Linked DNA regions of Homo sapiens: region 2 is linked to region 1. Evidence: fine-mapped expression QTL. A gene starts in region 1. The other region holds a variant in brackets. All regions are shown on one strand. Distances are from middle to middle. Region 1 holds the start of NEK6 (NIMA related kinase 6). Region 2 has its middle 24 kb from the start of NEK6.

Region 1 (2,901 bases):
GCGATCATAGCTCACTGCAGCTGCTAACTCCTATGCTCAAGAGACCCTCCCGCCTCAGCGTCCCGAGTAGCTGGGACTGCAGGCAGGCACTACCACACCCAGCTAATTCTTACATTTTTCTGTAGACATGGGGTTTTGCTATATTGCCCAGGCTGGCCTCAAACTCCCAGCCTCAAGGCATCCTCCCACCTCAGCCTCCCATAGTACTGGGATTACAGGTGTGAGCCACCGCACCCAGCCTGAAATTTCATTTCTAAGCCTCAAAGCCCATCTGTAAAATGGGCACAAGGGTAACGTTGGCACACGTGGTGGACGCTCCGTTGGTGTCATTATTACAGATCACGGCCAGTTGAAGCACTTCCACTCATTTGGCAAACAGAAGCCAGACGGGCATTCACCCTGTGCCCAGTACAGTGCTGCGCCCAAGCAGGCAGTCAGTGTCCCTGGCTCCAGCCCTCCTGGGGTGCAGCACAGTTTTGAATGTGGAGGGGAGGCAGCAGGGGTGGAAACAGCCCAGCCAGGAGCGGCCGCTCTCGGTGCGGGGAGGAGGTGAAGTGAGAACTGAGCTGCTTGGGTCTCAGGGAGGCTCTGACTTCTAGAGGGGGCGTTCAACATTCTTTAGTGGGGACTTTTACTACTTCCAGAAACCTCTGCACATTGGCTCTTGCTGGTCCCCCGGGGGCCACAGGAAGTGGGAGCTCCAGATGAAGAGTCGCTGGCACTTTGAGGGCAGGGGGCAGGGCCTTCCCCTCATCGGAATACTCTTGGAGCCTACTTCAGTGCCTGCATTCAGCTGGTGCACAATAAGTGCTTGTTACTGTGCCAATTTCAGTATGACTAGGGCTGTGGTAGGAGCAATGCTAGGCGATGGGGAATCCGAAGACGCACAGGAGTCCAAGGGTTGGCTGACTGCAGACCCTCATCATAAGTCTAGAGCCGGAGAAGATGGGGAGACGCCGGCCTGCGCCCTGTGAGTCTGGGCCTCAGTCTTCCCATCTCTGAAATGGGGAAGGGGTTCCTCGGCCGAGCGGATCGGCCGCAGAACTCGGCGGAGTCGAGGGGTCCAGGCCCAGGAAGGACGCCGCCGGGGCGCCCCCCGCCCCTCAAGCTTGCGTGGCGGCAGCGCGCACGAGCGCTGGGGGCGGCGCGGCCCCGCGGCGGGGAGGGGCGGGCGCGCGGGCGCGCGGGCCCGCGCAGGCGGTGGCGGCGGCGGCGGAACCGAGCTGACGGGCGTGCGGCCGCTGCGCCGCAAACTCGTGTGGGACGCACCGCTCCAGCCGCCCGCGGGCCAGCGCACCGGTCCCCCAGCGGCAGCCGAGCCCGCCCGCGCGCCGGTGAGTCGCCTGGGGCTGGGGCCGGGCCGGTGGGGCCCCGCGGCCCGGAGAAGGGCGGGGGCCGGGCGGCGGGGCCGTCACCCCCAGCCGGGCCGAGGGCGGGCGCGCGCCCACGGCTCCGCGGGGGAGAGCGGGAGGCGGGCGCGAGTGTGGCCGCGCGGGGCTGAGCGTGTCGGCGGCCGGGCGGGCGGGGGCGGCGTGTCCGCGTGTCCCGGGGTGTGCGCGTCCCCGGCGGGTGTGCGTGTGCACCCCGGAGCGTCTGGTGGCGTTGTTGGGGTGAGTGCGTGCGGGGACGCGGGCATGGCTCCCCGCTACCCACTTCCCGAGTGGGGACGACGGGCGGAGGAGTGTGCCGGGCGCCGCAGGGAGTACGTGCGGGTCTCAGGGAGTGTGTGTGTGCACGTGTGTGCATTCCAAAGTGATTTGTGTGCAAGCACATGCGTGAGCCTAGAAGGGCGAAAGTATGCCTGTGTGGGTGTGAGTATAACGAGTGTGCAGGGCCGTGCGAGCGTGTTTATTACTGAGGTTGAGGGGCCGGCCCCCTTTGCGCCCACCAGGCCTTTGCACAGTGATGGCCCCCGAGCCAGGGAGCCCGTGGAGAGAGAAGCGGCCTGGCATGGGCTGGGGGTCGGGGCTGGGCCTGATCCGGTGAACCAGGGGCCAGGAGGGCAGACTCAGAGCCTGGCTGGGCCTGACAGAGGCAAAGGTCTTAGAGCCAGGCTGCGGCAGGGCCACTGGCAGGACCCTCTCTGCATACACAGGCTGGGCGAGCGGAGGCTGTGGTGGGCCCCTCGGCCGGGCACCCGAGGACGTGTGTTTTCCTAAATATCCTCCAGGCTCTCCTGTCTTTGTTCTTGTCTCTCTCCAGCCAGGCCTGGGGGGCTGACCCTAGACTTGCCTGTGTATGTGGGGGCCTCTCTGCCTGCCCTGCTAAGTAGACGGATCTTTTGATTTATTTATACCTCTCCTAGGCTCCAAGTGTGAATCCCAGGACAGTAACAAATTGATCACAGCGGGCTTGGGACACCAGCTTCCGAGGTCTGTCCTTGCAGTTTTGACTGACAGGCTTTTGTGTGTGTGCGTGCTCTCTAACTGTTGAAAATCTTTGCAGCTGAAAGTCTTAATTGCTTTAAGGCAAACTTTAGAAATTCCAGAGCTCCCTAGTTGGTCTGACTTTTCCAAATTCAGCTTGCCTTTTTTGGGGGAAAATGTCGCCTTAGTTTGGTGTACAGTACGTGCAGGCAGGTCTTGGAGGCACGTTTAAAAACCCTGTCGTTAATGGAAGAAGAATTTCATTGAAAGGGACGCAGAGCCGTCTGGAAGCGCCTGCCCCGGACTCAGCGAGTTTGGACTCAGCGAGTTTGAGCTTACCGAATGAACTTTGGACGTCTTCTTTTAGCAAACAAAACCTGGAAGGAAGCAAAAAAGACCCACATTCTTTTTCTTTTTTCTCCTGAAAATGAAAAAAAGAAAACACCTTCTGGGTTTGCTGGAAATGCCCCCTCTCCTTCCCCCATCAAGGCCAAGCCCTCGCTGCGTCCCCCACCCCCAAATAAAATATGCCTGT
Region 2 (2,901 bases), 25 kb before region 1:
TTTTGAGCTGAATAACAATGAAAATGTAACATATCTAAGCCTATGTGATACAGATAAAGCAATACAATAAAGGGAAAGTTATAACATTAAATGGCTTTATTCAAAAGGAAGAAAGTCCCAAAATAAATACATTTGCTAAGCTTCCACCTTTAGGAACTAGATAAAGAAGAGCAAATTAAACCCAAAGCAGGTAGAAAGAAAGAAATAATAAGATAAGAGTAGAAATCAATGACTAGAAAACAGAAAAACAAGAGAGAAAATAAATGAAACCACAAGCTGCCTCTTTGAAAACATCAACAACATTGATAAACTTCATCTTCAATCAGTAGAAAAGAGAAAGTCACGGGCCAGGTGCAGTGGCTCATGCCTGTAATCCCAGCACTTTGGGAGGCCGAGGTGGGAGGATCACGAGGGGAGGAGATGGAGACCATCCTGTCTAATGTAGTGAAACCCCGTCTCTACTAAAAATACAAAAAATTAGCCAGATGTGGTGGCGTGTGCCTGAAGTCCCAGCTACTCGGGAGGCTGAGGCAGGAGAATTGCTTGAACCCAGGAGGTGGAGTTTGCAGTGAGCCGAGACAGTGCCACTGCACTCCAGCCTGGGCGACAGAGCAAGACTCCATCTCAAAGAAAAAAAAAAAGACACAAATTACCAACAAGAAAAATGAAAGCCTGGGTGCAGTGGCTCTGCCTGTAATCCTGACACTTTGGGAGGCTGAGGCAGGAGGATTGCTTAAAGCCAGGAATTCAAAACCAGCCTGGGCAACACAGCGAGACCCTGTCTCTACAAAAAGTAAAAAAATTCGCTGGGTGTGGTGGCTCATGTTTGTAGTCTTAGCTACTTGGGAGGCTGAGGTGGGAGAATCCCTTGAGTCTAGGAGGTCAAGGCTGCAGTGAGCTATGATAGCGCCATTACACTCCAGCCTGGGTGACAGAGCAAGACCTTGTCTCAAAAAAAAAAAAAAAAAAAAAAAAAAAGAAAGAAAGAGAGGGCATCCCTACACATCCTGTGACCATTAAAAAGATAATAAGGAAGTATTGTGCCCAAAGTTATGACCACAAATTTGACAACTTAGATGAAGTGGGCATATTCCTTGAAAGACACAAACTAGCAAAGTTCTCAAGAAGAAACAAAGGGAAGCGGAAAAGATAACTATTGGGTACTGGGCTTCATAGCTGGGTGATGAAATAACCTGTACAACAAACCCCCATGACACATGTTTACCTATGTAACAAACCTTCACATGTACCCCCAAACCAAAAATACAAGTTTAAAAAAAGAGGGAAAACATTACTTTTTCTCTCTTTTAGTTTGAGAAACTAGCAGTTAATTTTTTTTTTTTTTTTTTTTTTTTGAGACGGAGTCTCACTCTGTCGCCCAGGCTGGAGTACAGTGGTGCCATCTAGGCTCACTGCAAGCTCCACCTCCCAGGTTCACGCCATTCTCCTGCCTCAGCCTACCCGGCAGCTGGGACTACAGGCACCCACCACGACGCCTGGCTAATTTTTTGTATTTTCAGTAGAGACGGGGTTTCACCATGTTAGCCA[C/T]GATGGTCTCAATCTCCTGACCTTGTGATCCTCCTGCCTCAGCCTCCCAAAGTGCTGGGATTACAGGCATGAGCCACCACGCCCGGCCTAAAATTTTATTATGTGAATATGTATGTTAGTGATTTCATGTTAGCATATATGTAGCAAAACCAATAAAACTGTCATCAGCATTGAAATAATAAAATGTGTTGGCTTTTTTTTTTTTTTTGAGACAGAGTCTAGCTCTGTTGCCCAGGCTGGAATGCAGTGGCACGATCTCAGCTCACTGCAACCTTTACCTCACCAGTTCAAGCCATTCTCATGCCTCAGCCTCCCGAGTACCTGGGATTACAGGTGTGTGCCACCACGCCCAGCTGATTTTTGTATTTTTAGAAGGGACAGAGTTTTGCCATATTGGGCAGCCTGGTCTTGAGCTCCTGACCTCAAGTGATCCACTCACCTCAGCCTCCCAAAGTGCTGGGATTACAGGCGTGAGCCACCACACCCGGTCTTTTTTTTTTTTTTGTAAGACAGGGTTTCATTCTGTGGCCCAGGCTGGAGTGCAGTGAAGCAATCTTGGCTCACTGCAACCTCCACTTCCTGGGTTCAAGTGATTCTCCTGGCTCAGCATCCCGAGTAGCTGGGATTACAGGTGTGTGACATCACACCTACCCAGCTAATTTTTGTATTTTTAGTAGAGATGGGGTTTTACCATGTTGGTCGGGCTGGTCTTAAACTCCTGACCTCAAGTGATCTTTCCTCCTCGGCCTCCCAAAGTGCCAGGATGACAGGCGTGAGCCACTGTGTCCAGCCATAATATGTTTGGCTTTGAGTACACTGTTTAAATAAAGCAACACCTAAGGGTGTCACTGGGAGGTCTATGAAATAGGCTGAAGTATTAAAAACCAAGCAAAAATAGTAAGAAAAGCTGAGAAAGAAACATGGAAAGGAAAAAAAAAGGAGTGAAAAAAGATTGGCAAAGTAGTGCCTCACCAAGAAAATGTCTTTCATGCTGTTTAGTGATATTCTCGGTTAAAAATTTCTAAAAGCTGTGGAAAGCAAGTCAAATTTTGTTCTAGCCTTCTGCTGTGAAAACATTAGGTAACAAATATGTGTCAAATCTATTGTTTTCCAAAATATGGTGTTCATGCTTGAAATACGCCATTGCCAAATAAAGTCTATTTTTGATATACATAAAAAAAGAAGAAACAGAAAACCCAAATAGTCCTATACATCAATTAAGGAATAGAAATTCATAGTAAAAACTTTCTCATGAAAAAATTTCCCAGCCCAGATGGCTTCACTGGTGAATTTTATTAGTTAAATTTATTTTAAAAGAAATATTAATTCTACAGAAACTCTTCCAGAACGTAG

The links.
Region 2: its variant is fine-mapped to the expression of NEK6 in whole blood (TOPMed, PIP 0.93).

The regions. Positions count from the first base shown.
Region 1 is chr9:124,256,752-124,259,652 of GRCh38, forward strand. It overlaps NEK6 (NIMA related kinase 6), which reads left to right and starts at 1,198. Exons shown (of 10, transcript NM_014397.6): 1 at 1,198-1,334. It overlaps LOC613206 (a long non-coding RNA gene), which reads right to left. Exons shown (of 2, transcript NR_149024.1): 2 at 2,459-2,743. RefSeq lists silencers at 1,218-1,347, 1,408-1,777 and an enhancer at 1,815-2,760.
Region 2 is chr9:124,232,134-124,235,034 of GRCh38, forward strand. No RefSeq gene overlaps it. Among named protein-coding and RNA genes, the nearest start is that of NEK6, 24 kb to the right of the region's middle. The variant C/T (reference allele first, on the strand shown) is at 1,549.